3 separate regions of the Homo sapiens genome follow, and regions 1 and 3 are each linked to region 2. The links come from fine-mapping of genetic effects on gene expression. A gene starts in region 2. Each other region holds a variant in brackets. All regions are shown on one strand. Distances are between the middles of the regions.

Evidence for each region. PIP is the estimated chance that this variant, and not a neighbour inherited with it, causes the effect.
Region 1: its variant is fine-mapped to the expression of ATP6V1G1 in lung (TOPMed, PIP 0.97).
Region 3: its variant is fine-mapped to the expression of ATP6V1G1 in macrophages (Nedelec 2016, PIP 0.95).

What each region holds. Positions count from the first base shown.
Region 1 is chr9:114,624,991-114,635,310 of GRCh38, reverse strand. It overlaps TMEM268 (transmembrane protein 268), which reads right to left. Exons shown (of 9, transcript NM_153045.4): 4 at 8,305-8,412; 5 at 7,061-7,210; 6 at 1,433-1,543. Among named protein-coding and RNA genes, the nearest start is that of TMEM268, 19 kb to the right of the region's middle. The variant G/A (reference allele first, on the strand shown) is at 5,081.
Region 2 is chr9:114,581,541-114,591,574 of GRCh38, reverse strand. It overlaps ATP6V1G1 (ATPase H+ transporting V1 subunit G1), which reads right to left and starts at 3,806. Exons shown (of 3, transcript NM_004888.4): 1 at 3,655-3,806. The coding sequence starts at 3,736. RefSeq lists enhancers at 3,371-3,880, 3,991-4,070, 3,709-4,527, 4,528-5,347, 7,859-8,363.
Region 3 is chr9:114,547,457-114,557,776 of GRCh38, reverse strand. No RefSeq gene overlaps it. Among named protein-coding and RNA genes, the nearest start is that of ATP6V1G1, 35 kb to the left of the region's middle. The variant C/T (reference allele first, on the strand shown) is at 5,678.

The sequences.
Region 1 (10,320 bases), 44 kb before region 2:
AGTGCAATGGCACAATCTCAGCTCACTGCAACCTCTGCCTCCCGGGTTCAAGTGATTCTCCTGCCTCAGCCTCCCAAGTAGCTGGGACTACAGGCGCACACTGCCACGCCCTGCTAATTTTTTTATATTTTTAGTAGAGACGGGGTTTCACCACGTTGCCCAGGCTGGTTTCGAACTCCTGAGCTCAGGCAATCCATCCGCCTCAGCCTCCCAAAGTGCTGGGATTACAGATGTGAGCCACCACGCCCAGCCCATTCTTTAGTCATCTATCCATCCGTGCATTCATCTAACACATGTCAAGCCACTCCTACGTGCCAACGGATAAAGGAGATTCAAAGATAAACGAGGCTAAAAAGGACCCCCACATTCCAGGAGCTCCCAGTCTACAATGTCACACTTGAACTGCCGAGAATCTTGTGATGTCATCTGCTTCACTCCAATGATAGGCAAGATCATCTTATACCTACACCATCTTGGGTGTGATAGGCTCCACAAACATAGGGACCTGCATGTGTTCTCTGCTGCAGCCTCAATCCCTGGGACAGTGCCTGGTACACAATAGGCTCTCAATAAACATTCGTGGAGGAACTGAGGCAGGTGCATGAGGAGCCTCTTCCCAGGTCCCCCGTGCACACCTACCTCTGGGCTCCCACCAGGCAAGGGGCCATGACTGGTGAGAATGCAGATGTGGTGCCAAGGAGGTTTTGCAATTCCACTGGGCAGATCAGGCATGGATGGAGGAACAGGAGAGTTCAGCCAGGATCAGGAGATCTGGCCTAACTGTGTTCTGACCCACCCTGCCACGCCATACTAGTCACTTTCAGATCTCCCCCCAACCTTCGGGGCAAAGAGAATGACCAAGCCAGGCAAACAAGGCCTTCAGCATCTGACCTGCCTCTCCGGCCTCATCTCTCCCCGCTGTGTCACTCTGGTATAGCCCCAGCCATGGTGAGCTCCATGCAGCCCTTCAAAGGGACCCTGTGTACCTTGCCTCTCAGCCTTGTTGGGGGCTGTCCGTTTGCTATAAGGCCAGAGAGGCTACTGTTGACTGTCTCACTGTATGCCTGTCATCCTCTGCCAGGACAGGGACCTTGCATGGGCCCCTCAATGTCGCCAGTGTCCAACCGAGGGCACAGCACAGAGGAGGCTCCGTCTGCTGAATAAATGCCAGGTGAGCAGCAAGGTGTGGACATTATCTGTGCTTCCCTTCCAGCCCTGCCACGTGGAGGTTCCAGGCCACTGGTTACTGCACAGAGAAGGTGTCTTGAGGAAGAAACACCAGGGCAGGGAGGAAGGAAAGGGCTGCCAACAGCCATCTCATTAGCAGACTACTGCAAACACTGTGTAGGCTGGGAGAACATGAGGCCACTGCTCTCCATTAGCCCAACATAAAACTGGGCCATCAGGAAGAGGTAACTATGAGACACAGCACCTGAATCACACTCTGGCATCCTTCCACTGTGTCTGTCACCCCCAGCAGCACCCGGTGTCTCAGGAGGGCTCCATTGGCAGCTGCCAGCCTCAGGTCCGTGTTGGTGTTGGCCTGTAAGACAAACGCCAGGCCCATCACCAGACCTCCATGCTACTGGGGAGCTCCCAGGCTCTGGGCAGTAGAAACACACCATCCCACCCCCAGATGCCAAGGGACAATCCCCACCCTCAGGACTGTCCCATTTCCTCCCCTATTAAATGGTCGGGGGTGGAGGCAGTCACAGTGACTCATGCCTGTAATCCCAGTGTTTTGAGAGACTAAGGCAGGAGAATTTCTTGAAGCCAGGGGTTTGAGGCCAGCCTGGACAATGTAGCGAGATGCCGTCTCTATAAAAAATTGTTTAAAAATTAACTACGTGGGGCCAGGCGCGGTGGTTCACGCCTGTAATCCCAGCACTTTGGGAGGCCGAGGCAGGTGGATCACAAGGTCAGGAGTTCGAGACCAGCCTGGCCAACATGGTGAAACCCCTTCTCTACTAATAATACAAAAATTAGCTGGGCGTGGTGACACACACCTGTAGTCCCAGCTACTCGGGAGGCTGAGACAGGAGAATTGCTTGAACCCAGGAGGCAGAGGTTGCAGTGCACAGAGATCACGCCACTGCACTCCAGCCTGGGCAACAGAGTGAGACTCTGTCTCAAAAAAAAAAAAAAAAATTAACTAGGCATGTTAGCATCCACCTGTAGTCCCAACTACTTGGGAGGGTGAGGCGAGAGGATCACTTGAGCCCAGGAGTGTGAGGTTATAGTAAGCTATGATTGTGCCACTGCACTCCAGCCTAGGTGACAGAGTGAGACTCTATCTCTTAAAAATAAGGGAAGAAAAATAAAATGAGATGGGGGATAGTTGGAACAGTAAATTCAATAGTGTCAGACAGCCCTGGGATAAAGCCCAGCTCTGCTGCTTCCTAGCTATATGGCCCTGGACAAGGTATGTCCCTTCCCTGAACCTTATTTTCTTCAGTTGTAGAATAAAAGAATGTGTCTGCCTCCTAGGAATGGAGTGAGATTTCACTGAGATTGTGTGTAAAGTACTTAACCCAGGGCCTGGGACTCTGTCAAGGTTCATAAGATATTTGCGGAAGATGGGAGATCAAATGGGTTTGATCTGTTTGAGCTGACACATCAAATCTGTTGTGTAAGTGAAGCACTCACTCCATCTAGAAAGCACCTACTTTAAAGTACCTAACACAGCGCCTGGCCCTCAGGTGGGGCTCTGGGAATCAGCCTCCTGCTCTCCTACCCAAACCAATGGACGCCACGCATTCAGCTGGGAGAGTGGATGCTAAACAGGTGGGGGAGAAGAGGAGGGACAAGAGGACCCCAAATGCTGGTTTGGGGAAGTAAGCACAAGAGGACTTTCAGACTCAGTTAGAAGAGAGCAGCCTGATCAAGAATAATAGTTCTCAAAAGGGGCAGCACCCTGTAAGGGAGATTTTGGAAATGCAAGGAGGACCCTTTGGTTGTCACAGGGATGGGATGGACAGTGCTGGCACTTAGTGGATGAGGGCCAGGGGTTCTGAACCCATGCCTTCCACTGAAAGACATGTCCTATTAGAAACCATTCTGCATGTTCAAGACTGTCCCCTGGGCTGCCTGGATTCCAAATGTCCCACTGAGCATACATGCAGATAAAAAAAAATCTACTTAGAATTCTCTGGTCAGCCAACCTAACTCCAGTTTACATTTATACCTAAAGTGATTTTTTTTTTTTTTTTTTTGGAGACCTAGTCTCGCTCTGTCACCCAGGTTGGAATGCAGTGGTACGATCACAGCTCACTGCAGGCTTGACCTCCTGAGCTCAGATCTTCCTACCTCAGCCTCCCAAGCAGCTGGGACCACACATGCATGCCACCACACTCAGCTAACTTTTAAATTTTTTGTAGAGATCGAGTCTCACTATGTTGCCCAGGCTGGTCTCAAACTCCTAGGTTCAAGCAATTCTCCCACCTCAGCCTCCCAAAGTGCTGGGATTACAGACATGAGCCATCACGCCCAGCCACTTAACGTGATTGTTTGCATGAGTTTAATGTACACTGAATTTTCCAGGAATGCCTCTACTATGAAAATTGAGGAATAATTATATTTTGTTTTGCCTAGATCTGTAGTAAGAAGATTTGGATGTGGATTTGGATTTGATGTGGATTTCTTCCTTCTAGAAATCTGTATCACCAATAGTTCAATTCCTAACGTACCTCTCACTGCCCATATAACCTTGGGCAAATTACTAAACATCTCTGTGCCTCCATCTCCTTACCCCCAAATGGAGATAATAATGCCCCTACCTCAGAGGAGTATAATAAGGATGAAATGAGTTAATCCATGTAGAATAATTGAAAGAATTGAACACTTAACACATGTCAGCTGATAATATCACAGTGAGGATGACAGTGAACTTAAATCATTGTGTTTTCACTGTGCCATATTAGCCGCAAATATTTGTAGGAACTTGGAACTTCTCATGTGTCCTAGCAATGTGCCAGGACTTGCCTGCCTTTACAAACCAGCCAATCTTTTTTTTTTTTTTTTTTTTTTTTGAGGCAGGCTGGAGTATAATGTTGCCATCAGAGCTCACTGCAGCCTTGAACTCCTAGGCTCAAGCAATCCTCCCACCTCAGCCTCCCAGGACTATGGGCATGTGCCACCACACCCCGCTGATTTTATTTTTTGTAGAGACAGAGTCTCACAATGTTGCCTAGCCTGGTCTCAAACTCCTGGGCCCAAGTGATCCTCCCACCTGAGCCTCCCAAAGTACTGGGATTATAAGTGTGAGCCACCATGCCCGGCCCAAATCTTCCAATCCTGAGAAAGGCTAACAGTGAGCCAAAGGGAAAACAAGACAGTTATGCCAGACATTGATGCTCTCAAAGACATCAAGTAACAACAGAGAGGATGCTAACAGTAAGAGTGACAATGGTCAGGAAGAGGGGATCTGCATAGTCCTGAGTGACAAGGGATCCAGGGAGGAGGAGGTCCTGGAGCTGAGACCCAAAAGAAGACCTGAGAAGGGCTGTGTGGCCATGGACTGGTTACTTAACCTCTCTGAACTTCCGTTTCCTCACTGGCAAACAGAGTTAATAACAGTTAATACTTACAAAGCATTTACTTTACACCAGGTACTATTATAAACACTTTGTGTGTCTAAGTCATTTAATTCTCACAATAACCCTATGAGGGAGCTACAATTATTATCTCATGTTTTAGATGAGGAAACTGAGGCCCTGATAGATTAAGTAACTCACCCCAAGTTGCAGAGCTAGCAAATGGCGGCGGTATCCTGCCTCCTTATAAGGTTGTTGTTGGGCATAGACGTGAAGCCCCAAGCATACAGCATACAATAGGTGCTCATGAAATGATGGACATTATTAGGAAGAAAATAAGGAGTCTCCTAAATGAGCAGACAGTGATGATGGCATTGCCAGGATGCACCTGAGACCTCCATGCTGCACACAAGCCTTGCGCATTTTCTGGGATCTGTGCCTGGCACAGAGTAAGACCTGTCTTGGATGGATGGATGGATGGATGGATGGATGGATGGATAGATATATATTGTTGGAACAGTAAATTCAATAGTGTCAGTCCTGGGCCA[G/A]AGCCCAGCTCTGCTGTTTCCTGGCTGTGCGGCCCTGACAAGGTATGTCCTGGTACTATCAAGGGCTTCATAAATACCAGCTGAATAAAAGGAGGAAAGAAGAGACAGAGGCAGAGAGCCAAAGCAGGCATTCCCTCCACCATGTGAATTACATCCACATCCTCGAAGCACCTGTCAGGTGCCAATCTTTTTTGCTTGCTCCTGCTAACTAAAACAAAACACTTTGCTTCTTCCCCTCCCCAAGACAAAGTTCTTGCTGCAGGAGTAGCCAGCTCGATTTGTTTTATAGGCCAAACACAAGGGCCATGAAAGCTTCAACAGACCCCAAGGGCAGCATTATTTTGTCAGTCTTGTGGCAAAGCCCAACAAAGATCCTTACAGAATGAGTACACCATATAGTTCCCGTTTGTCTCGTGAACACACGCACTAAGTGGAATTCACACCCCAAATGCTGATTTACATTTCCCAACATCCTGCCCCCTCTTTCTGAGTCAGGCAAGATCAGAGTCCAGCACTGTGCCAGGGATCGGGGGATGGAGGAACAAGAGCTTCCCAAGTAGGTGGAAAGACAACATAGGTGTGGTAGCAGAGAAATGGTCCCCAAAGATGTCTAAATCCTATTCGCCAAAACCAGTGCAAATGTTGTTACACAGCAAAGGGGAGTTAAAGCCACCGATGAAATTTATGTTGTTAATCAGCTGACCTTAAAATTAGGAGATTATCTCAGATTATCCAGCTGGCCCAATGTAATCACAAGGGTCCTTAAAAGTAGAAGAGGGAGGCAAAAGAGCCAGAGAAGGAGATGTGAAAAAGATTGGATCTGCCATTGCTGGCTTTGAAGATGAAGAAAAGGATCACGAGCCAAGGAATGCAGAGGACCACTAGGAGCTAAACAGGCAAGAAAACAGATTCTCCCCCAGAGCCTTCAGAAGGAAGCAGCCCTGCCTGTACCTAGATTTTAGTCCAGTGAGACCTATGTCAAATATCTAACCTACAGAACTGGAAGATAATAAATTGGTGTTGTTTTAATCCAATAAGTTCATGGTAATTTGTTACAGCAGCTTTGGAAAACCAACAGTTTTCTCTAGCGTTGTGGCTAAGAACATGGCTTGGAATCTGAGGCCCTGGCCTTGATTTCCAACTCTGGCATTTATTAGCAGCATGGCCAGGGCTACTCTATGAGCCTGAGTCTAGGGTTCCTCGACTGCAAAGTGAGTGTAACAGCCTCTACCCAGATTTAATGTCGAAGGATTTAATGAGTTAATGTGTAAGCATTTAACAGAGGACCTACTACATATGATGTGCTCAGTACATATCAAAAGACAGACACTGAAGAGACAGAAAACAATTAAAATCATACATCAAGCTGGGAGGTATCCACCTCCTTTCGGAACATGATCAGGAACCAGAGGGCTCAGGGTTTGAACCCTGGCTCTGTCACTAACAGTGGGATCCAGGACAAGTTACCTAAACTCTCGGACCACCCACCTTGCCTCAAAGGTCATTGCTGGGATTAGAGACATGACTGTCAATAGAGCACCAGGTCGGCATCTGCCCGTCACAGGAGGGAATAATGTAAATTACCTCTCCCCAGACGTCAACTTTAGGCACCCTGTGCTGCAGGGTGGGTTCAGTAATCCTCCCTTGTTCATAGGGCTGTTGTGAGCACCCAGGGAGAGGAAGTGCATGAGAGGGCTCAGTTAACTAAAGTACTGTCAGGATACGGGCAATTACTGCTCTCCTCTCACATTCCCAAAACACAGCTTGCTTCCAGAAAAACAATCCACAGGGATTAGACAGGAAAAGCAGAGAGAACAATCACATACACAATTTGATTTCTTTTAGTCACTGGGCTTACGGGCTAGTGTGAATTTTCATGGCCAGGGAAATTCTTTGAGGGAGGCAAAAGGGAAAAATCTGATTCTCACGCCTGCACCGCTCTTCTGGAGAGAGTGTGGCAGGGATCTCCAGACATCTCACCTTCTTCTGGTGTCTTTCAAAGACCAGCACAAGAGTCAAGGTCAGGCTCACCGCGGCCAGGGTCACGAGCAGCATGCCAGCCCAGTGGTTCCCCAAGGCAAACATCTGACTGGTAGAGTAGATATTGGCCCACACCACCACATAGAAAACCTGCAAGATGCCAGACAGAGAGCATGGTCAGGAACTTCAGTCCTTGCATAAAGCAGCTCCATTCAAAGGGACACCTTTCAGACACTACTGATACCCTCCTTGGATTCAGACAGCTCACAGCACCAGTAAGAGATTGATGCAGTCACCTGGATCTGTGAGAATGAGCTAATGTTCCTTGTTTATAAGCAAAAGTAGACAAAAAGGGTTAGTAGCTACTCCTAATCCTTGTTTACCTTAATTTTAAATAAAACAGAAAAAGGCAGGTGGATCTGAAGTGAGACAAATATCAGTTCAAAGACCATAATGATCCTTCAAGCACTATATGGCTTTGGACAATTTATAACTCCCCTAAGTCTCAGTTTCCTCATCTGTAAAATGGGGATAATAACACCTATTTCACGGCATTGTAATAAGGGTTAACAAGGCAACATAAGTAACAGCCCAGCACTCACCAGGGAATGAATCAATGCTGGTTCCCACCCTTTTCCCTTCTCCCTAGAAGTGGGACCTGGGAGTCAGGTGTGCTATTTGACCATTTATACATACAAAACAGCAGCAAATCACAGTGGTTCCAAGCACAGACGCTGAAACCAGACTGCCTGGGTTCAAATCCTGGCTCTGTCATTTATGTATGTAAGTGTTTATATGTATCAATATGAAGATGTATACATATATTTTATATATATATACATATGTGTATACACACATATATATGTACATGTATATATGAATAGAGCTGAAATAACCCATCTGTTGAGCAGATGGGGAAACCAAGTTCCGGAGAGGAGGAAAGTCTTGGCCAAGGCCAGATATTGAGCCCAGAGCCTGGGTGGATCTGCAGACTCCCAATCCCAAGCTCTGCCCACAGTAAACCCTGACTCCCATCCTTTATGCAACGACCTGGTTACAACTCTCTCCCATAAATTTCCTCTGATCCCAAATCAATGTCCATATGTACTGCTCGTTTCCAGGCACCTGGGCCAACAGCCCCCAAGCCCCTGACCCACACCAACAGGCTCCAAGACACGGTGCTGAATTTGGTGGTGCCATAAGCTGTCAGGGCAGGGTCAGTGTGCGGGCCACCTCCCCCTTACCACAGCAAAGGCCAGCCGCATAGGCCTCGAGTTGTAGATGATATATCTTCTCACTTGGGGCTCCAAGAGGGCACTCTCAGCCAAGCTCCTGTACTGGTCAGCCGGGACCTGCTTGGAACCCAGGGAAAGAGATCAATCAGCCGCAGGACAGCCAGTTTCCAGTGCATGTGACTATCATGTGGAAGGGGGATTAGGCACATTCTGGGCTGTCCCAAAGGCAGAATGAGGAGCTTGGAGCACTGGGTGGAAGTCACATGGTGCAGCTCTCAGCTCAGGGAAGAACAGGCATCATGACATCTGGAGAAGGATCCACACAGCCTCAGACTCAGTACCTTGCAGCAGACACAGGGCAGCCTGATGGTTAAGGCATAGGCCCTGGAGTCAGACAGCCCTGGGCCCAAACTCTGGCCCTGCCACTCATGTGCTGTGTGACCTGGAGCAAGTAACCCCACTCCTCTGAGCCTGTTTTTTCCTCTGTAAAATAAGGATAATAAAAGTACCCACTTTGTAGAACTAAGGTACATATTAAATAATACATGTACAGTGCTGAGCAAAGGGCCAGTCCCTCAGTGAGCACTCAATATAGAGTTGCCACTATCAATACTGCAATATCAATATCTATTAATGCTGTCCAAAAGACTGAACACTCACATCTTCCTGCCCAAACAAAAGCGTCTATAGAATATAAAGGCCCCGTGAGAGTAGAACTAAGAAAACAGAACTTAACCATTAAAATGATATTTAGGCCAGGTGCAGTGTCTCACACCTGTAATCCCAGCACTTTGGGAGACCAAGGCAGGTGGACTGCTTGAGCCTAGGAGTTCAAGACCAGGCTGGGCAACATAGCAAGACCCTGTCTCTTTTTATAAAAATAAAAAAGAATGCCAGGCACGGTGGCTCACACCTGTAATCCCCGCACTTTGGGAGGTCAAGGCGGGCGGATCACGAGATCAGGAGTTTGAGACCAGCCTGGCCAACATGGTGAAACCCTGTTCCTGCTAAAAATACAAAAATTAGCTGGGCATGGTGGCACGTGCCTGTAATCCCAGCTACTCGGGAGGCTGAGGCAGGAGAATTGCTTGAAGCCGGGAGGCAGAGGTTGCAGTGAGCCGAGATCACACCACTGTACTCCAGCCTGGGCCACAGAGCAAGACTCTGTCTCAAAAAATTAATTAATTAATTAATTGAATTGAATTGAAAAAAATTATATTTAGGAACACGGTAGAACAATACGTAAACTGTTCACCCATAAGAAAACCCAATCTGCCAGGCGTGGTGGCTCATACCTATAATCCCAGCACTTTGGGAGGCCGAGGCGGGTGGATCACTTGAAGTCAGGAGTTCGAGACCAGCCTGGCCAACATGGTGAAACCCCGTCTCTACTAAAAAATACAAAAATTAGCCAGCCGTGGTGCATGCTTGTAGTTCCAGCTACTTGGGAGGCTGAGGCATCAGAATCACTTGAACCCAGGAAGCACAGGTTGCAGTGAGCCCAGATTGCGCCACTGCACTCCAGCCTGGGCAACAGAGCAACACTCTATCTTGAAAAAAAAAAAAAAAAAAGAAGAAGAAGTAAATTCTAAAATCTTCAGGCTAAAATTAGCAGTATATCTACCCTATTCATAATTAATCCTTAATCCTCCTTGGCCTTGGCTAGCACAGGAAAGGCCTGATCATGTTGGGGGCTTTGGGAAGAGAGTAAAACCCATACATATAGGTACTTCATAACAATAATAGCTACAATGTATTGAGCATTTACTATATACTAGAGACAATGCCAGGGTTCCTCAAGCATTATTGCATTTAATCTTAACAAAAACCCCTTGTAATAGGGATCAATATTATCCACATTTACAGATGATAAAACTGAGGCTCAGAAAGGTTAAATCACCTTCCTAAAGTCACACAGGTAGTGAGCATCGGAGCTAGATCTGCATCCAGTTCCACAGGTCTGTGAAGCCTGGCCTCAAATCACTATGCTTGAAGGTACTGCATCATTATCTAATGAATTCATAT
Region 2 (10,034 bases):
CAGGTCTCTCTCTCAAAACTCCAAGAACTATTTCTGCAAGTCCACATTCACTCCAGTATTATTTCTGGCCTACTACTGTCTGCTTCGGCCACCTGTACCCCAATCCTTCACATGCTATCTTCCCATCAGCTATAATGGGCTGTATTTCAAAGCTAAAGATACTTTCGAAACCAACAATCTATAAATAACACTCATGGCCTGAACATTATGCAGTAGCTCCGCATGATTTCACAAGACATCACCTCCCAACTCCCATGGCTCCCTGCATTTATAACTCAGGATAATACCATTTACTGCCTTTGGCAAACATCTTCAACATTCAATTTTGACAGGGGCCTCTAAAAATCAAAAATATTTAAACAGAAAATCGTATTTCTCTTAAATCTTGTTCTTCTTGGGCCTTACATATGGGAGCCAGTGTTTTGTTTCACTCCAATGAAATATGCCATTAACACAAACTTTTTTAAAATTTTAAGGTCCACGCCGGGCGCGCTGGCTCACGCCTGTAATCCCAGCACTTTGAGAGGCCAAGGTGAGCAGATCACAAGGTCAGGAGTTCGAGACCAACCTGGCCACTATGGTGAAACCCTGTCTCTACTAAAAACACAAAAACTAGCCGGGCATGGTGGCAGGCACCTGTAGTCCCAGCTACTCGGGCGGCTGAGGCAGAAGAATCGCTTGAACCTGGGAGGCAGAGATTGTAGTGAGCCGAGATCACGCCACTGCCCTCCTGCCTGGGGGCGACAGAGCGAGAATCCATCTCAAAAAAATAAATAAACAAAATATATAAAATAAAATAAAAAATAATAAAAAAAATTTAAGGTCCAACTCAATGATTTCATTAAAAAAACTGGATGGGATCATTTTATATACTGCCTCTTCCCAACTCTTAACTGGGCAAATCAACCATAATTATAAATCAAGAAAGGCAAATTTTCAAACTGCAGTTCTTCTGACTACCTCTCTGTTCCTAACTATTAACAATTCTGAGACAGGCAAGGCGCAGTCGCTCATATCTGTAATCCCAGCACTTTGGGAGGCCGAGAGTTTGAGAAGAACCCGGCCGACATAGTAAAACACTGTCTCTACTAAAAATACAAAAATTTATTTTTTTATTTATGTATTAATTTATATGTTTTTGTATTTTTAGTAGAGATGGGCATGGTGGTAGGCACCTGTAATCCCAGCTACTTGGGAGCCTGAGGCACAAAATCTCGAACTCTGGAGGTGGAGGATGCAGTGAGCCAAGATGGTGCCACTGCACTCTAGCCTGAGTGACAGAGTGAGACTCTGTCTCAAAAAAAAAAAAAAAAATCTGAGAAGTATGTAAGCCATAAACTAATACTTTGGTTTGTTTTTTGTTTTTTTTTTTTTTTGAGACGGCGTCTCCCTCTGTCCCCAAGGCTGGAGTGCTGTGGGACAGATCTCCGCTCACTGCAACCTCTGCCTCCTGGGTTCAAGCGTTTCTCCTGTCTCAGCCTCCCAAGTAGCTGGGACTACACGCGCACACCACCACGCCCAGCTAACTTTTGTATTTTTAGTAGACACGGAGTTTCTCCATATTGCCCAGGCTGGTCTCAAACTCTTGATCTCAGGTGATCCACCCACCTCAGCCTCCCAAAGTGCTGGGATTACAGGCGTGAGCCACCACGCCCAGCCAAATTAATACTTTTTAAAACCAATTCACAGCTACCTGACATATACAAAACCCTGCACCAGGCTTGACAGGATAAAGGTATAAAACATAAATCCTACCTGGCTAGGGCACTCAGAATTATTCTTACCTATTCCAAGCATTTTTTCCTGCACTTCCCCAATCTATTCTCCTATCCCTCCCGACAGATACAACTTCTGTTACTGATGAGCCATCAGAACACAAACTGTGAGAAGTCATTCTGGAAATACACTATCAAGGGCATGACTGGAAATATTCTGGGAAGAACAAAGAACTTTCCAGTCACCGGAGCAAGAACAAAAGGCTTCTTCTCATTCCCAACACCCTCAAAGAAAGCTTTCCAAGTACCACACAACCCCTAACTGCACAAGTAGAGGAGACATGCTTGAAATCTAGTTGGATGTCAGATAGAATAACTCCTATACTAGGAGAAACACCAAGGAATTACTAAGATCAGTATCTTCGCCTTGCATGGAAAAAGAGGCTTCTGAGTCCCAACTATGTTGCTTCCCAGGGTATGGATAAATCATTTCTCTCTGAGCCTCATTTTTACTATCTGTAAAATAGGGATAGAAGCATCTTTCTCACCAGACGGGAAACTGGATACATAAAGTTAAATGAGACATAGTTTCTGTTCTCCAGAAGCTTAGTCTAGTGACTGAGCCATATAAACAAACAGGTTATTGCACGGCAGTGGCAGAAATCAGCACTTGGGAGGGACTCCAAGCCTAGTCCGGGGGACAAGCATGAGTCAGGAAAGGCTTCCCGGGAAGAAGTGTTTCCTAAATTGAGGTCTGATGGAAGACTAAGGGTCAGAGAACAAAGGGGAGGAGAATTGGAAAAGGCTTCTCACGTCAGAAGAAACAGCGTGTGCAAAAACCTGCAGGTGAAAGACATCATGCTGCTTCTGAGGGACCACAACGATTCAGTATAGCTGGAGGAAAGCACCAGGCCTGACCCACAAGAGCCTCCCCAACTTCATTAAGGAATTTGAGCTTTCTTCTGCAGGAACTAAACGTCTGACTACAAAGGCGGTAGGGAAATCATATCTGCACTTATTTATTTATTTTGTTCCTTACCAGCAGGAAGTCACATATTTGCATTTTAGAAGGATGACTGATTGCAGAGAGGAGAATGGATTGACTGGAGGGGACCAGAACGGGTTCTTCCACTCCCCAGTCTAGATTAAACTCACCTGTTAAATTCTTTAGCAACCTTACATTTCTCCACTCCAGCCCTCATCTCTCCTGCAATTAATTAACTGACCCAATACCTGCTTCCTTCACTGCGACACTGAATGCCACGTTAGGGGAGACAACTGATGCACTGGGCACTGCGCTTGCCACATATTAGACAGAAACACACACACACACACACACACACACACACTGCGCTTGCCACATGTTAGAAACACACACACACTGCGCTTGCCACATATCAGAAACACACACACGCACACACGCCAACGATTTAGACAACTACAGTACCTTTAGAGAAACTGGTGTCCTGGACTAAGACGCTGGTAGTAGACATGGGGGAAAAAGTGAAAGATACGCAAGCCTTGGCGACTGACTAAATGAGGGAGGGAGAAGAGGCAAGCAGGACTCCAGGTTTCTAGACCAAGCAACTGTGTGGATGCTGGCTCCCTTCACCGAGACTGACCACCCCAGAGCGGTTAAGTGGGAGAGAAGAAGAACAAAGAGCTCCGTTTGGAGAGCCCATTTCACATGCCTCCAGGCCCCAAGGACGGTAACCCATTATTGTTTCCACGCCCAATTTACCATCTCACATCGTGGCTTCCAGGCGATCCGCAAGCCTTCCAGAGCCTCAGCTCCTCAAAGCTTCGAAACACACAACCTTCCGCGACTATACGCACGCCCGCACCCCGCAGTTTTTCGGGCCTAATCTACCCACCACCTGAGGCCCAGCGGTCTTTCTTCGACTCGCGCCACGCCGGGCAGCCCCACCCTGAAACTCACTTTTGCGGGCCTCGGACACCTTCTCGGCTGCCCGCTTCTCGGCCTGCAGCAGCTGCTGAATCCCCTGAGACTGACTAGCCATGGCGGCAGCGATTCTGAGAGCAAGGCAAGCGGCCTAAGGCACCTCGAAGGCCCCTTGGGTCAGCTGACACAGCCGCCCACAATCTGCGCTTGCTCCTTGCGCCTGCGCTTCGCCCCCGTTGTCACGTGACCGCACAGCGTAGCATCAGCTGACCGCTCTTGAACTTCTGTGATTCGGCAGAAATGGGGCGGGGCGGGGCTGAGGAGAAAGGAGCGGAGCTCCTCGACTGCGCCTGTGCAGTCTACTGCGCAGTACTGCCCTCTACTCCTCTGTCCGCTCCCTGGCCTCTTTTAATGGCTACCCTGTCGCTGGTTCACTCTGTAGCCGCCCTGCCACGTATAGTGTCTGTTTGCAGTATGCTCAACGTCAAGAGAGGAGGGGCCAAGTCAAATCACTTTCCTCCTACTCTCCACACTGCTCTACTCACTCCCTTTCTGGGACTTTCTTTGGCACTCAAAATTTTATCGGGGTAGTTCAGGAAGATTCTTGCCAGTTCCGGGGATAGAGTCTTGGGTTGCCAGTTAGGAGACTCGGGATCAAGTCTGCCGCTAACCTGTGTGATTTTGGACAGGTCGCTATCCTTTTCTGAACCCGAGTTCAGGAATGGACTGGACTGTTTCCCATAAATATTTGATGAAAGCCTGCTGTGATCCTAGTCCACTGTTGATATTGAGGACATAGCAGAGAGCAGGGCAAACAAGGTCCCGGCGGAGCTCACAGTTTATGGACACAGACAGATTAATTAAAATAAATAGACAATTACAAACTGTGATAAAGTCATGAAGGAAAAATGCAGGGTGCCGTAAGAAGGAACCTTTAGTAAGGGGAGAGGAATATGGAGGTGTCTCTGAATGCTGTACCAAGGAAGTGGTGTTTAAGATCTGAAGGCCAGGCGCAGTGGCTCACGAGCCTGTAATCCCAGCACTTTGAGAGGCCGAGGCGGGTGGATCACTTCAGGTGAGGAGTTCGAGACCAGCCTGGCCGACGTGGTGAAACCCCGTCTTTACTAAAAATACAAAAATTAGCCGGGCGTGGTGGCGCGCGCCTGTAATCGCAGCTACTCAGTAGGCTGAGGCACGAGAATCGCTTGAACCCGGGAGGCGGAGGCTGCAGTGAGCCGAGATCGTGACGCTGCACTGCAGCCAGGGCGACAGAGCAAGACTGTCTCAAAAAAATTAAAATTAAAAAATTAAAATAGGCCAATCGCGGTGGCTCACGCCTATAATCCCAGCACTTTGGGAGGCTGAGGCCGGCGGATCACGAGATCAGGAATTTGAGACCAGCCTGACCAATGTGGTGAAACCTGGTCTCTACTAAAAATACAAAAATCCGGGCATGGTGGCGCGCGCCTGTAATCCCAGCTACTCAGGAGGCTGAGGTAGGAGAATCGCCTGAACCTGGGAGCTGAGGTTGCAGTGAGCCGAGATCGTGTCACTACACTCCAGCCTGGGTGACAGAGCAGACTCCATCTCAAAAATAAATAAGTAAATAAATAATAAAAATTCTCAAAAAATAAAATAAGATCTGAAGAATAAGAAGTTACCCAGGAAAGGATAGTGGGGGATGGAGGCGGTGGGAGATGATTAGGGGAAAAGGACCAGCGTGTGCGGAGTTGGGGAGGGGGTCAACTTGGCACGGAGACATCTCCCCATCCACCGTGAATAGGGAAATAGGAAGCCATGGTTTGAGTTTACAGTATGACGGGCCCTTGTCATCGCTTCACTCACTCCTCACATTAACTTTGATACTGTTACTAATTCCATTTTATATTGACCAAACTGAAGCTCAGAGAGTCGCAAAGTCTCTGAGCCAAAAGTCATGCCCCTATTAACACACAGACAGGGTATTTGAATCCAGTCAGGGCTGCAGAGTAAAACCTCTGAGCTACTGCTTTTCTGCCGGAATCCTCTGGGCTGAGGAAAGGACCAGGTGACCTCTTAGAGTCCACTGAGTGCTGAGAACATAAAATAATGCCAGAATTTTTCTTGATACAAAGATTCTTCACTCCAGGAGCTGGATTCATGGCTCAGGACATTTTCATTTGATTGACGTGGTGGGGTTGGAAAGAACAGAATTTCTATCCTTTTCTGATGTGAGAAACAGGACTGGAAAGAGTTTTGAAGATAAAACAGAATAGAGCACATGGGCCCACATGTCTCCTGCCTGAGTTACTATATTCCTTAAAGGATAAATTACACTAATCCTTGCCTCTTTTACACATAAGATAACATCTGACAGAGTTAGTGATTATACTTCTGCAAATGTACCTTATTTCTTTTTCTTTTTTCTTTTTTTTTTTTTCTTTAGATATTCTGTAGCCCAGGCTGGAGTGCAGTGGCGCGATTTCGGCTCACTGCAACCTCCGCCTCCCGGGTTCAAGCGATTCTCCTGCCTCAGCCTCTCGAGTACCTGGGATTACAGGTGCCTACCACTGTGCCTGGCTAATTTTTTTTGTAGTTTTAGTAGAGATGGGGTTTCCCCATCTTGGCCAAGCTGGTCTTAAACTCCTGACCTCGTGATCCACCAGCTTCGGCCTTCCAAAGTGCTGGGATTACAGGTGTGAGCCACCCCGACCAGCCAGTTAAAGTACATTTTAATAAAGAAATAAAGGCTGGGCGTGGTGGCTCACACCTGTAATCCTAGCACTTTGGGAGGCTGAGGCGGGTGGATCACAAGGTAAGGAGTTCCAGACCAGCCTGGCCAACATGGTGAAACCCCATCTCTACTAGCAATACAAAAATTAGCTGGGCATGGTGGCACATGCCTGTAGACCCAGCTACTCGGGAGGCTGAAGCAGAAGGATCCCTTGATGCCAGGAATTAGAGGCTGTAGTGCACTATGATTGCCCCTGTAAATGGCCACTGCACTCCAGCATGGGCAATGCAGGGAGGCCCCATCTGTATAAACAAAAGGAGAACAAAAGAAAGAAACCACAGTTCACTCAGTCAATCAATGGAAGACAGCAATACACACTTCTAGAGGTGGCATGAAGATTAAAAGAGATGATGGTACCCCAAAACTGGAAACAACCCAAATGTCCATCTACTGATGAGTAGATAAAATGTAGCATATTCATACAATAGAATAGTATTTGGTTATAAAAAGGAAATAAAGCTACAACGTGGATGAAACTTGGTAATATGCTAAATGAAAAAAGCCAGGCACAAAAGACTACATATTATACAGTTCCGTTTATAGGAACAATCCAGAATAGGCAAATAGACACAGAAAATAGATTAGTGGTTAACCAGGGGCTGAGGGGAGAGGAATGGGGGAGTGACTGCTAATTGGCATGGGTTTTCTTTTTCGGGTGATGGAAACATTCTGGAATTAGTGGTGACAGTTTCATACCCTTGTGAATATACAGTAAACAAAAACAAAAACAAACCCGGCCGGGCACGGTGGCTCACACCTGTAATCCCAGCACCTTGGGAGTCTGAGTCGGGTGGATCACCTGAGGTCGGGAGTTTGAGATCAGCCTGACCAACATGGAGAAACCCCATCTCTACTAAAAATACAAAATTAGGTGGGCATGGTGGTGCATACCTGTAATCCCAGCTACTTGGGAGGCTGAGGCAAGAGAATGGCTTTAACCTGGGAGGCGGAGGTTGCAGTGAGCCGAGATCACACCATTGCACTCCAGCCTGGGCAACAAGAGCGAAACTCCTTCTCCAAAGAAAAAAAAAAAAAAAGCAACACTGAATTGCATACTTTAAAAGTACAGTATGTGAATTATACCTCTATAAAGGTGTTATTAGAGAGAGATGATGACAGATGTAAAGCCCTTGCAATTTCTAGTCTGCAGTAAGAGCCAGGAAATGGAAGCTGTTATTTTTATCTGGCTAGGGGGTGATTGTTTGAATTACAAATGTGGTGCTCCACTTAACAAAAGCCTTCACATTAGGGTTCCTCTAACAGTCCAGTCCCTCAAACCATCTAAATATCTACAAATTCCAGAATTCTTTTTGCTTGTAGCATTTCAAAAGTTTATTGTGTAAAGAGAAAAAAATCAGACAATCCCGCCTCTGAAATTTTTAGACTGGTTTGGATTTTCCGATGATCTGAGTGGGTGTTTGTTGTCAGAACTCATGTACCCTGGGGAGGTGTCCCACAATAACTAGGAAATAAAGGTGAAGCCATTGCCCTCTGAGAGAAAGTTTTGAGCCAGTAGGGTAGATTCAGACAGTCGTCTGAAGGAAACAGAGTGGATCTCAGGCCTTGCTGCCCTGACCAAGGAATGTATTAGCATATCAAAGAAAGGAGTGTTTCCATTCTGAGAAGTAGTTATTCAAACACAGGCTGGAAACAAGGAGAAGCAGCAAGGGTGTTCTTCACACACCCCAGCTCAGCTAGAACTAAGGTAGGTGGAGCCTCTCACTACCTTGGGTAAGAAAGCCAGGTGGCCCGAGTTCAAATCCCTAGCCCTGTAATTTAGCAAATGGAACCACTCTGTGGGTTCAACTCCTCGTATGTTAAAAATGAAGTTAGCCGGCCAAGGTGGGTGGATAGCTTGAGCCCAGAAGTTTAAGACCAGCCTGGGCAACATAGTGAGACCTCTTCTCTACAAAAAATTCAAAAAATTAGCCAGGCATGGTGGCACATGCCTGTGGTCCCAGGTACTCCAGAGGCTGAGGCAGAAGGATTGCTTGAGCCTAGGAGTTGAGGGCTGCAGTGAGCTGTGATCACGCCATTGTACTCTAGCCTGGGTGACAAAGTGAGACCCTGTCTCAAAAAAAAAAAAAATGAAGCTAATAATAGTATAATAATGTTATTGTGAGGATTAAATCAGTTAACACATGTAACTAGCTTACAATGTACTCACTGCTCACAAGAATTTAGATATCTGGACCCCATGTTGACACAAGAATAATACAGGGCAGTGGCAGGAGAATAGAAGATTCTAGGCAGGCTGGGGACGGTGGTTCATGCCTGTAATCCCAGCACTTTGGGAGGCCGAGGAGGGTGGATAAACTGAGGTCAGGTGTTCGAGGCCAGCCTGGCCAACATAGCGAAACCTCGTCTCTACTAAAAATACAAAAATTAGCTGGGCATGGTGGCATGTGCCCGTAATCCCAGCTACTAGTGGGGCGAGGCAAGAGAATCACTTGAATCTGGGAGACGGAGGTTGCAGTGAGCCGAGATCATGCCAGTGCACTCTAGCCTGGGCAAAAGAGTAAGACTCAGTCTCAAAAAAAAAAAAAAGGAAAATTCTAGGCAGCAGATTCATATGACTAATAAAAGGCAACTTTTGAAATGGATGCATAAGCTAGGGGTTGATAAAACCCTGAAAAATCAGAGTATAGGCCAAGCTGGCTAAGTTCGACTGGACCCAATCTGGGGCTGAATTTGACCTAGGTTTCTCCTAGGACCTCATTATACGCTCATTAACATACCAAATCATACACCCACCAGCACCTGGACAGTCCCAGGAACACCCATATTTGGTGTAAAAATGGGCGGCAACAAGGCTGGGCGCGGTGGCTCATGCCTGTAATCCCAGCACTTTGGGAGGCCGAGGTGGGGGGATCACAAGGTCAGGAGATCGAGACCATCCTGTGAATGGTGAAACCCCGTCTCTACTAAAAATACAAAACATTAGCCGGGCGTGGTGGCAGGCGCCTGTAGTCCCAGCTACTCGGGAGGCTGAGGCAGGAGAATGGCGTGAACCCGGGAGGCGGAGCTTGCAGTGAGACGAGATCGCGCCACTACACTCCAGCCTGGGTGACAGAGCGAGACTCCGTCTCAAAAAAAAAAAAAAAAAAAATGGGCAGCAACAGTTCTGAGAAATCTTCACCTTTTTCCAGGAACCTTCATGAATATTCTGCCCCTTGGCTAAGGAAACCCATAAAGATAGAAACCCCAAACCCGATGGCATAGCTCTCTGTCTTGAGAACACCTGCACCTCCCTTTCTTGAGTGTGTACTCTGCACTTTGCAATAAATCTCAGTACTTTCACTATTTTTCTGCTAGTCCTTGAATTCCTTCTCATGACAGTGACAAAACCTGGACACCAGCAGGGGTCGAGTTCCCACTGGCTTTTGGGGACTTCACCACAGAAGATAAGAAATGACCTAGTGTATCTGGTCAATGAAAGGTCACCTTAGACAAGGGGACTCCTTCCAGAGACTCTGCAGTGCCACTGCAAATGGTGGGATAGGCTGTTTACTGCATAAGGAGGCAAGACTGGGCTAAATTCCAGCCCATACCCGGACCATTTGACCCAGAAGGAGCATCTTTTTAATTTTATTTTTTAAATTAATTTATTTATTTTTTAATTTTTAAGACAGAGTCTTGCTCT
Region 3 (10,320 bases), 34 kb after region 2:
AAGACCTTGCTTGAAAACAGCATGTGGTAGAGAATCTAGCCAAATCCCACCAAAACCAAAATGACCATGAAAGTGACCTCTGGTTGTCCTCACTGCTCATTATACACTTATTATACTACTAAGAGACACTCCCACCAGTGCCATGACAGTTTACAAATGCCATGGCAACATCAGGAAGTTAGTCCCTATGGCTGGGCACGGTGGCTCACGCCTGTAATCCCAGCACTTTGGGAGGCCAAGGTGGGTGGATCACGAGGTCAGGAGATTGAGACCATCCTGGTTAACACGGTCAAACCCCGTCTCCACTAAAAATACAAAAAATTAGCCAAGTGTGGTGGCGGGCGCCTGTAGTCCCAGCTACTCAGGAGGCTGAGGCAGGAGAATGGTGTGAACCTAGGAGGCGGAGCTTGCAGTGAGCTGAGATCACGCCACTGCACTCTAGCCTGGGTGACAGAGGGAGACTCCATGTCAAAAAAAAAAAAAGGAAGTTAGTCTGTATGACCTAAAAAGGGGAGGAACCCTCAGTTCCGGGAATTTCCCACCCCTTTCCTGGAAAACTCATGAATAATCCATCCCTTGTTTAGCATATAATTAAGAAATAATGATTAAAAACAGCCAACCAGCAGCCCTTGGGGCTGCTCTGCTTATGTAGTAACCATTCTTTTGTTTCTTTACTTCTCTAATAAACTTGCTTTTACTTTACTATATGGACTCACCCCAAATTGTTTCTTGCACAAGGTCCAAGAACCCTCTCTTGGGGTCTGGATTGGGATTCCATTCTGGTAACACTTCTGCCACTGCACAGTATCTCACAAGCTGTCACTCTTTCTTGAACTTTAAACTTCAGGTTTTATTCAAGATAAACTGCCACATTTATTGTAGTGTGTCTTAGTCCGTTTTGTGTTGCTACAACAGAATACCACCAACTGGGTAATTTATAATCAACAGAAATTTATTTGGCTCACGGTTCTGGAGGCTGGGAAGTCCAAGAGAATGGCACTGGCTTCTAGCAAGGGCCTTCATGCCGCATCATGCCATGGTGAAATGCTGAAGGGCAAGAGAGCACATGAGTGAAAAAGAGAGAGAAAGAAGGGAAGGGCGCTGAACTCATCCTTTTTATCAGGAACCCACTCCCACAATAACTAACCCAGTCCCGTGATAATAGCATTAATCTATTCATTAGGGCAGTGCCATCATGACCTAATCACCTCTAAAATGTGCCACTTCTCAACAGTGCTGCATTTGGGGATTCAGTTTCCAACACATGAAATTTGGGGGACACATTCAAACAATAGTATGGCGTTTATGTCTTTCTTAACCATCTAATATGTGTGAGACTGTGCTACCATTTTTATTAGTTTCCTAACTTTCTTTTAATGTGTCACTGACAATGCTTTTGAGTGTGCCTTAACTCCATTTTTCCATAAGCCCTATGATTTTATTTTATTTTATTTTATTTTATTTTATTTTATTTTATTTTATTTTACTTTGAGACAGAGTCTTGTTCTGTTGCCTAGGCTGGAGTGCAGTGGCACAATCTTGGCTCACTACAGCCTCCGCCTCCTGGGTTCAAGAGATTCTTGTGTCTCAGCCTCCCAAGTAGCTGGGACTACAGGTGTGCACAATGCCTGGTTGATTTCGTATTTTTAGTACAGATGGGGATTCATCTTGTTGTCCAGGTTGGTCTTGAACTGCTGACCTGAGCTGATCCACCTGCCTCAGCCTCCCAAAGTGCTGGGATGGCAGGCATGAGCCACCACACCTGGCCTACCCTGTGATTTTTAATCACACAATTTTATATAGCACAATGATTTTCAGGAACACATAAGTCATCTTATAGTGGAACTGACTATTTGCAGCACAGTCAGCTCTTAGGAGAGGAAGCAGCCCAGGGTAATGGCACTGCACAACTCCAGGGACAGTGTTTACATGGCATCTTCTGTGGTGTGTATTCTGTGGAGTGTGCCCATAGGACCATGAATGTTTTGTGCCTAGCACAAGGGTTCGCAGCTGAGATGTGGACAGGGGCTGAGATCCAATGCTTACTCTGCCTGCCAAAGCCATCACATTCTCTGTCCACCCAGAGGGAGCTCCTGTTCCTAGCTCATAACACAAAAGAGGAGAAAAAGAGTTTTAATTGCATTTGGAATTGAAGTGAAATAATTGAACAAACAGAATTGTATCATAAATGTCAAAATGAGATTTTACTAACAGCCTAAAACAGTGCTTCCAAATCTCAAAGAAAAGGATGACATTTGTTGACCACTCGGCCAAGGCAACTGGCCAAGAGCTCTGACAGCCCCAGGCCCTACCCAGGCTACTCAGAGGGTTAAGGGATTTATTTCTCCATCTGTCCTGCACCTTAATAGTTCAGTGTGCTGTGGCACCTTAATTGGATACCTCTGACCAAAAGTGAAGGTAAATTAAGGAACCTTACCAAGATGACATCATGGAACTCATTATTCAATGGGAAAGGCAAAGTGGGGGCGGGGGGGGGGCAGGGAAACAGGGGAGGTATGTGTTAGTTAGTGCACCTACTGAAAGAGGGGAAGCAATTTCTATATTAAGGGGACCACACACTCTAATTTGCCCAGGACACTCCTGGTTTATGCATCCTTTTTCGTCCTCAGAAGGGTCCTAGTAACCCTATTTATACTCCAAAAGTTAACACTTCTTAATCAATAATTGGTGAAACACACTGTGGTATTGTGTGTGTGTATATATATATATATATATATATATATATATATAATTTGGTCCTTGTCCTGTCCCTGGTTTTTGACAAGGAGCTCCTAAATCCTTTGACATTTTTTGAGTGAAAGGAGTGTCTTTTGTTACTCAAAGGAGACTTTGGGTCCTTATCTGTCTCCAGCCATATATGAAAGTGTATGTGAATAAGGTCAATCTTGTTGGGCACCTAGATGACTTCAGGATGGGGCTGGTCATCAGAGGAATCAATCATGTGATTACAGGGATGCAACATCCAGTCCCACTGGGGAGGGGACAGGGGCAGGAGTTTCAGCTCAATCACCAATAGCCAATGATTTAATCAACCATGCCTATGTAATGAAATTGCCATAAAATCCCCCAAAGGAGACAGAAGGGTTTCAGAGCTTCTGAGTTGATGAACACATCCATGGATGGAGAGGGTGGTGCACCCTGACTCCACAGGGACAGAGGCTCCTGAACTCGGGACCCTTCCAGACTTTACCCTATGCCCCTCTTCATCTAGCTGTTCATTCGTATCCTTTATAATAAACTGTAGGTATAGTATTTTCCTGAGTTCTGTGAGTCATTCTAGCAAATTATAGTACCTGAAGCAGGCATGGGCCATGGGGATTTCTGAATTTGTAGCCAAATTGGACAAAAGTGCAGGTAGCCCAGAAACCCAGGACTTATGGCTGGCGTCCCAAGTGAGGGCTGTCTTGTGGCACTGAGCCCTTAAACCTATGGAGTCTGACACTAATTCTGGTTAGTCGATGTCAGAATAGGATCGGATTGTTGTACACCTAGTTGGTGTCATGGGAATCAGAGACAGTCCATCAAGTTTTAATTGTAACCCCCTCTAGAAGACAAATGGTCTGGGGACAGATCTTAGTAACAGATGCCAGACTGAGTATTACCATCCCCTTCAACATTAGAGGTGGTGATACTCGGCCATGGACTTCCCAGCTCTTCCCTTGAAGTGCAACAGGACCACCATGTTTGCCCACCTCCTCAGGCACCATTCACAGTGTATTTTATGTGAAGGTGTGGAGTTCATCTTTTTTAATTCCTAGGGAGTAAGAATTCAAGGTGACCTTTCTGGCACCCTCTCTACCTGATCAGCCTCCGCCATGCCATTTCGTAAGTATTTTCCCCAGCTCAAGTAGTAGATGAGAAGTTTTGCAAATCAGCTGGCTAAACAGATGTCCAACGGTGGAACAGACTACCAGTGTCCTTTCTTGCAGACACCCCAGTTTGAGCCCTATGTCTGTCTTGGCCTTAGGGAAAAGACAAAGGGGTATCCCTGGATGAACACCGTACTACCCACTGGCCAATGACCTCTAATATTTTTTGGGAAAGGTGTGGACCAATTTCATTTTTTCTCAGTAAGCCTTGTGAGAATACGCATGCTCTGAGAAGGGAATACTATCAGGTGGGTGACTTGATTGACGTGTCACCACAATGGTCCTGTTGCTTAGAAATCCATCAGTCCTTTGTGCATACCCCGTACTTCTGGGACTGTTCACCTGAATCAGTGACCAATGGTTTTGGCTAAAAGTTACAAAACCCATCCAATAGTGGCTTAAATGAAATAGACCTTATTATGTCTCCTAGAAGACTAGGAGCCAGAGGATGCAGGGCCGCTCAGAGGTGATGAGCACTGGGATCAACAGCCCAGTTTCTTCCTATCTTTTGGCTCCGCCTAAGCTGTTAGTTTTTCATGTTCACACTTGTCATCTCAAAGTCACAAGATAGCAATTAGGCATAAACTCTGCTACCAACCTTCCAAAGCAGAAAGAACAGGCATGGTCCAAAAGTCTTTTCTTTCTTCTTTTTCTTCTTTCTTTTTTTTTTTTTTTTTTAATAGAGATGGGGTTTCACCACATTGGCCAGGCTAGCCTCGAACTCCTGACTTCAAGTGATCCACCTGCCTTGGCCTCCCAAAGTGCTGGGATTAAAGGTGTGAGCCACCTGTAATCCAGCCCAAAAGCCTTTTCTTTCTGAGGCTCTGTCTTTTTTCTAGGAATTGAGGGTCGCACACTGACTTCCCTTAGGTCTCTTTGTCCAAAACTGGGGTTGGAAACACTCAAAAAGGGGAATGGGATTGCCAGGGCTGGCATAGACACATGATGACTCATTTCTGGAGTTGAGGGAAGGATCTTGCCCTTACAACAAGCCGGGGAAAGGGGTGGAGGGGCGGGTAACGGTCACCCCTCTGAGTGCCAACCTTGACCATCTATCTTGCTTGCCCATCAGTTCTTCAGTGCATCTGCACCTCCAATGTCCGTGCCCTTCTTGCAGACACCCCAGGTGGAGGCCTTTCCTCTTTTCTCTCTCCCAGCAATACTGGACTTTTCCACAGGAGTGGGTAGCACTCAATAAATGTTTCTTAAATAAATGAAGACAAAAAAATGTTTTAAAAAATGATTTTATGGAGGGTGTGGGGAGTATAGAATTTGGAAGAAACATATTTCATAGAATTATTAGACAAATAGAGCCCAGAGATCAGGAATTCATTGCCAGGAGCCCATGACTGGGTGTCAGCGGGTTCCATGAAACCCTGAGATTGCATGACACATTTTGCATGAATGTGTATATAAATTTTGGGTAGGGTGTGTCCTTGGTTTATAGCACATGTAAGATTCTGCAACCTCTAAAAGACTCAGAAAGCCCACCCCAAATGGCCAAGGGCAACACCCTCAATTACCGGTGGGCAAAGTAGTAGCCAGCATCCTCCAAGGAATGACAAGCTAGCAGGACTGAGCTTCTGACTCCCAGGACCTCTCCTCCTAAAGCCACAGACTCCATTGTTTCTATTTTTAAAAGGCCAGTCCAAAAGGTGTTATTATTCTCTGTCTCCCAGCACAGCTTGGAGCAGAGTGGCCAGACTAGGGAAGGAGTCTCTCGTGATGACTCACCACCATCCTCCCCTGAGTAATGGCCTTCAGGCTCTATCACTCACTTGTGCTGA[C/T]GCACTAGACTGGAAAAAGCTGACCCTGAGTCAGTGGTTATATGGACACATAAAACCCTGGGAGGCGGGACCAAAGAGAAGGAGCTGAGCTGGAGGTAAAGCCAGTGCCCACCACCCAGACCCACACCTCCCCAACCCCAAGGGAGAAAGGTAATTTACTTAGGCAAGAGCCAGGTGAGCTACTGGATCAGTGTTAAAACTCCAAGCAGCCCCTGCATAGTGGATAGCTTGTAGGTGAAGATGGAGAATGGGAAGAAGGCCCACCTCTCCCTCAATAGGCAGCTCCTTCCCACTTTTGGGATGGAGAATAGCTGCGGTTGAGTTTGGCTTGGGAGGCTCAGTGAGTTAGTTAGGACCCCACCCCACATAATTCAGAGTGTGTGAGGCTGGGTGCAGTGGCTTACGCCTGTAATCCCAGTACTTTGGGAGGCCAAGGTGGGAGGATCGCTTGAGGCCAGGAGTTTGAGACCAGCCTGGGAAACACAGGGAGACCCCCTCCTCTGCCCCATCTCTACAAAAAAAAATTTTTTTTTTTTAATTAGCCGGACTTGGTGGCCTGTGCCCATTATCCCAGCTACTTGGGAGGCTGAAGGGGGAGGGATTGCTTGAGCCTGGAAGGCTGAGGCTGCTGTGAGCTGTGTGGTTGGACCACTGCACTCTAGCCCAGGCAACAAAGCAAGACCCTGTCTCAAAAAAAAAAAATAATAATAATAATTAATGAAATTTAAAAAATACAAAAACAAACAAACAAACAAAAAACAACCCACACATTGTTGTGTGAGAGCAGGCCCGGGACAGTTTTCCAGCTCCCAAGGTGTGCACCCTGGTCGGTAAGCCCTGGATTTGTTATGTGATCTTGGGAAACTCATTTGGCCTCCCTGGTCCTCCGTTGGTTTCCTTAATAGAAAGTTAAGGGGTTGCACTAGGTCAGTGGTTCTACATATTCCTCCCTAACAACCTCTGACTCCACAAAGGTAACCCTAGGCAAGCCATGGAGGGGAAGGGTCCCAGTGAGGGGCCTTAGAGACTAGGAGGAGAGGTGCCTTGGGGGACAAACGAGAGGGCCCCTTGGAAAAGGAAGGACACTGGCCTCTGGACATTTCATGCTGATGGGATTCTGCAGCATGGCTGCCCTTTAGAAGTGAAGAGCTTTGGCCAGGCTCACACCTGTAGTCCCAGCACTTTGGGAGGCTGAGGCAGGAGGATTGCTTGAGCCTAGGAGTTTGAGACCAGCCTGGGCAACATAGTGAGACCCCATCGATATTTTTTTAAAAAGAAATGTGGAGCTTTGTAAAATCAGAATTGCTTTCCCCAGACCTACTGATTCAGAGTCTTGCAGGGATAGAGACTGGAACTTGGACTTTCAGAAAGCTCTCCAGGACATTCTAAAGCAGCAGAGATTGTGCCTGTGAATAGCCACTGCACTCTAGCCTGGACAACATAGTGAGACCCCATCTCTGTAGAAGAGGGAGAAGGAGAAATAAAGTAGCAGGGGCTGGAGATCTAAGATCTGGGCCCACTCAAGGTCAAGGTGCTGCTGACCACCTCTTTCCCAGTTGCCCCCTGGCCACAGTGGAGATGCCCATTCCAGGAGGCAGCCCCCACCTCAAAAGAAAGGAAAAGAACAGAAAAGAAAAGAAGAACAATGGGGTCCAGACTTCAGCAGGTCCTCCAAGAGCAGCCGACCTCCTGCTTCCAGGTGTTCCAAGTGCATCAGTTCACACACATCTGTTGCCAGAGCCACAAGTCTATCGAGATCCTGAGTGGAAATATCTCCATCATTTAGCTGGTGACAGAGGCAATACCAAGAACAGTGTACTTACAATCGCTAGAGAAAAACATTGAATGGATTTTGAATAGCTGCAGAACGGCTCACACAGTGCACACAAATTCATTATCAGACTTGGCTCCACTCCTTTCAGGCGTGCCTCAGGCATGATAGGTTTCTGAAATTTGCATTCCTAAATGGAGGATGCTGATGCAGAAAGCAGGCAGCCGAGATGGGATTGGAGGAGGGAAAGATTCACAAGTGAGTTGGGTGGCGGTTGCTAGGAAAAGAACAATGTTGGTTGGAACTGTTGAGTTACAATGACAGAGTCCCAACTCTTGGCGGTTGAAGGAGAAAAGGAGATTTACTGGCGTCATGGAAGAGCTCAGAGTGACTCTGTGTCTTACAGAGTCTCTCTGCAGCCCCTGGTTCTGCTTTCCTCTGTGAGAACTTCCGTCTTGGCCAGGCCCTCACAAAGTGGCAACACAGGTGGCCACCAATGGTTCCGGCTTAGCTACTGCAGGGAAAGAATTCTTCTTTGTCCCAGAAGAGCCAGCCAAAGTCTGAGGGTGGACTCTCAGGGGCAGGCTTGTGACATCTGGACATCCCTGAACAGAGCACAGTGGCCAGGCCTGGAGCCGAACCATGAGGTGTGCCTCACTCAGACCGCAGAAACTGACATGACAGAGTGGCTTCTTCAGGGAGAATTAGGATGCTGTTATTAGAAGGAGGCGAGATGCTGGGAAGGCACGCAGGAGCTCTTCCCAGCCACTGCGGCAGGAGTGAAAAGCACTTGCTCTTGTTTCTGTCATGTGCTGAGCTCACTTCTATTACAGATTTTTCTAGGTGGTCATTTCTTTATCTGCATGTCTTCCCTGCTGGTTATGTATCCTCTCTCAGGCAGGAGCTGTGACCTCTATCATCTTTAAACTTGCAGATTTACAGAGGTGGTTAATAAGTCTTACTAGATGGGGTAAATAGCACAAGACTGGGATTAGAGAATTCTGAGTTTCTGTCTGGATTCTATGTGTAGACTTGTGTGCAGCCTTTGAGCAAGTGCTTTCTTCTCCTTCGGCCTCTTTCTAATGCACTGGATGAGGGTCAGCAAACGTTTTCTGTAAATTGCCAGATAGTGAATATGTTAAGCTTTGTGGGCCATATGGTCTCGGTCATGAACATTCAACTCCACCACTGCTGCCCAAAAGCAGCCAAAGACAGTACATGAGCAAGTGGGCACTGCTGTGTTCAAATAAATAGAAATAGGCAGTTCATGGGCAAAGTAAATGATTGCTGTTGGGTTTTTTTGCTTTTTGTTTTTATTTGTATTTTTGTTATTCTTTTTTCCTGACCATGGCAAGGACTGTTAAAACTGTCATTTTAAGCTGCTACATTTCCTTCTTCTTTCTTTCCTTCCTTCCTTCCTTCCCTCCTCCTTTCCTCCCTTCCTCCCTTCTCTCTCTCTCTCTCTCTCTCTCTGTCTCTCTTCTCTGTAAGCCAGGCTGGAGTGCGGTAGCGCTATCACAGCTCACTGCAGCTCAATTTCCTGGGCTCAAGGGATCCTCCCACCTCAGCCGAGTAGATGGGACTACAGACGCATGCCACCACACTCAGCTAATTTAAATTTTGTTGTTGTTGTTGAGATAGGGTCTCACTCTGTTGCCCAGTCTGGTCTTGAGCTCCTGGACTCAAGCAATCATCCCACCTCAGCATCCCAAAGTGCTGAGATTACAGACATGAGGCACTGTGCCCAGCAGCTGCCAAATTTTCTAGTGGCCTATCACATAGCAATAGTTAAAGGGAACAGTCATCCAGCAGAGGGTGGCAAACTATAGCTAGACAGCCACATTTGGGACTCCACTGGTTTTTGTTTAAAAAAAAAAATCAGCCGGAAGATACTTCTTCACGTGGACTTCTCCACAGGGCTGCCTGGGCTTCCCCACAGTATGGCAGCTGTGTTCTAAGAGTAAATTTTCCAAGAGATGAGAGGTAGAGGCTGTCAGTGTCTCAAGGCCAGGGTTCAGAAACTGGCACAGTGTCACCATACATTATTGGAAATCCACCAACTGCCCCAGATGAGTTCCCAGCTGACAGCCAGCCCCAGCTTGCCAACCACAGAAGTGAGCCATCTTGGAAGTGGATCGTCCTGCCCCAATTGAGCTTCCCCAGCTGATGCTTCCTGGAGTGCAGCATCACTGCCTTGAATCTGGGAGCTGGCCCTAAAAGGCTGGGTGATGTTTCAGCTCAAGGGAGGGTATTTTGAATAAAATATTCAGAAGGAAGGCTGGAAAAGAAGTGGACCAAATTGCAGATTTGCAATTTTGCAGTTGCGGAGCCCACCCAGATTCAAGTTTTGACATTCCTCCTATAGGTGGGGACTGTGTCTCTTCCACTTAAATCATGAACTCCAAGGACTCTGCCAGTTCAGGTGTCCTGTGGTTTTAAAGATTCAATAGTCGGCCTTGGATACCAGCAGCTTCTTGCTAATTCCCTAAGCTGACTCTGTAAAAGAGCATCACCCTAACCCATACCTTGATCTCTGAGGTCCTTGACCTCTATAGTGTCCTTGCAATCCATGCCTCCCCTCATTTCTCACTGTCACCATTCAGAACAGCCTGAGAGCTGCAATGGTCTCTTCACTAGTTGCTTGGTTTCCAGTCTATGTAAATGTGACTCTAAAGTTATCCTGCTAGAATGCTTCTCTCCCTAGTGCTTCCTAGATCAATATCTTCACTGACTTTCCACTGCCTGGAGAACAAAACCCCAGACAGGGTTCCACTTCCTTTTCCAGGCTTACTTCTGAATACTTTATTCGAAATGCCCTGCCTTGAGCTGAAAAGTCACATCCTTTGCCCAAAATTTCTAATTCTCTCTCCCA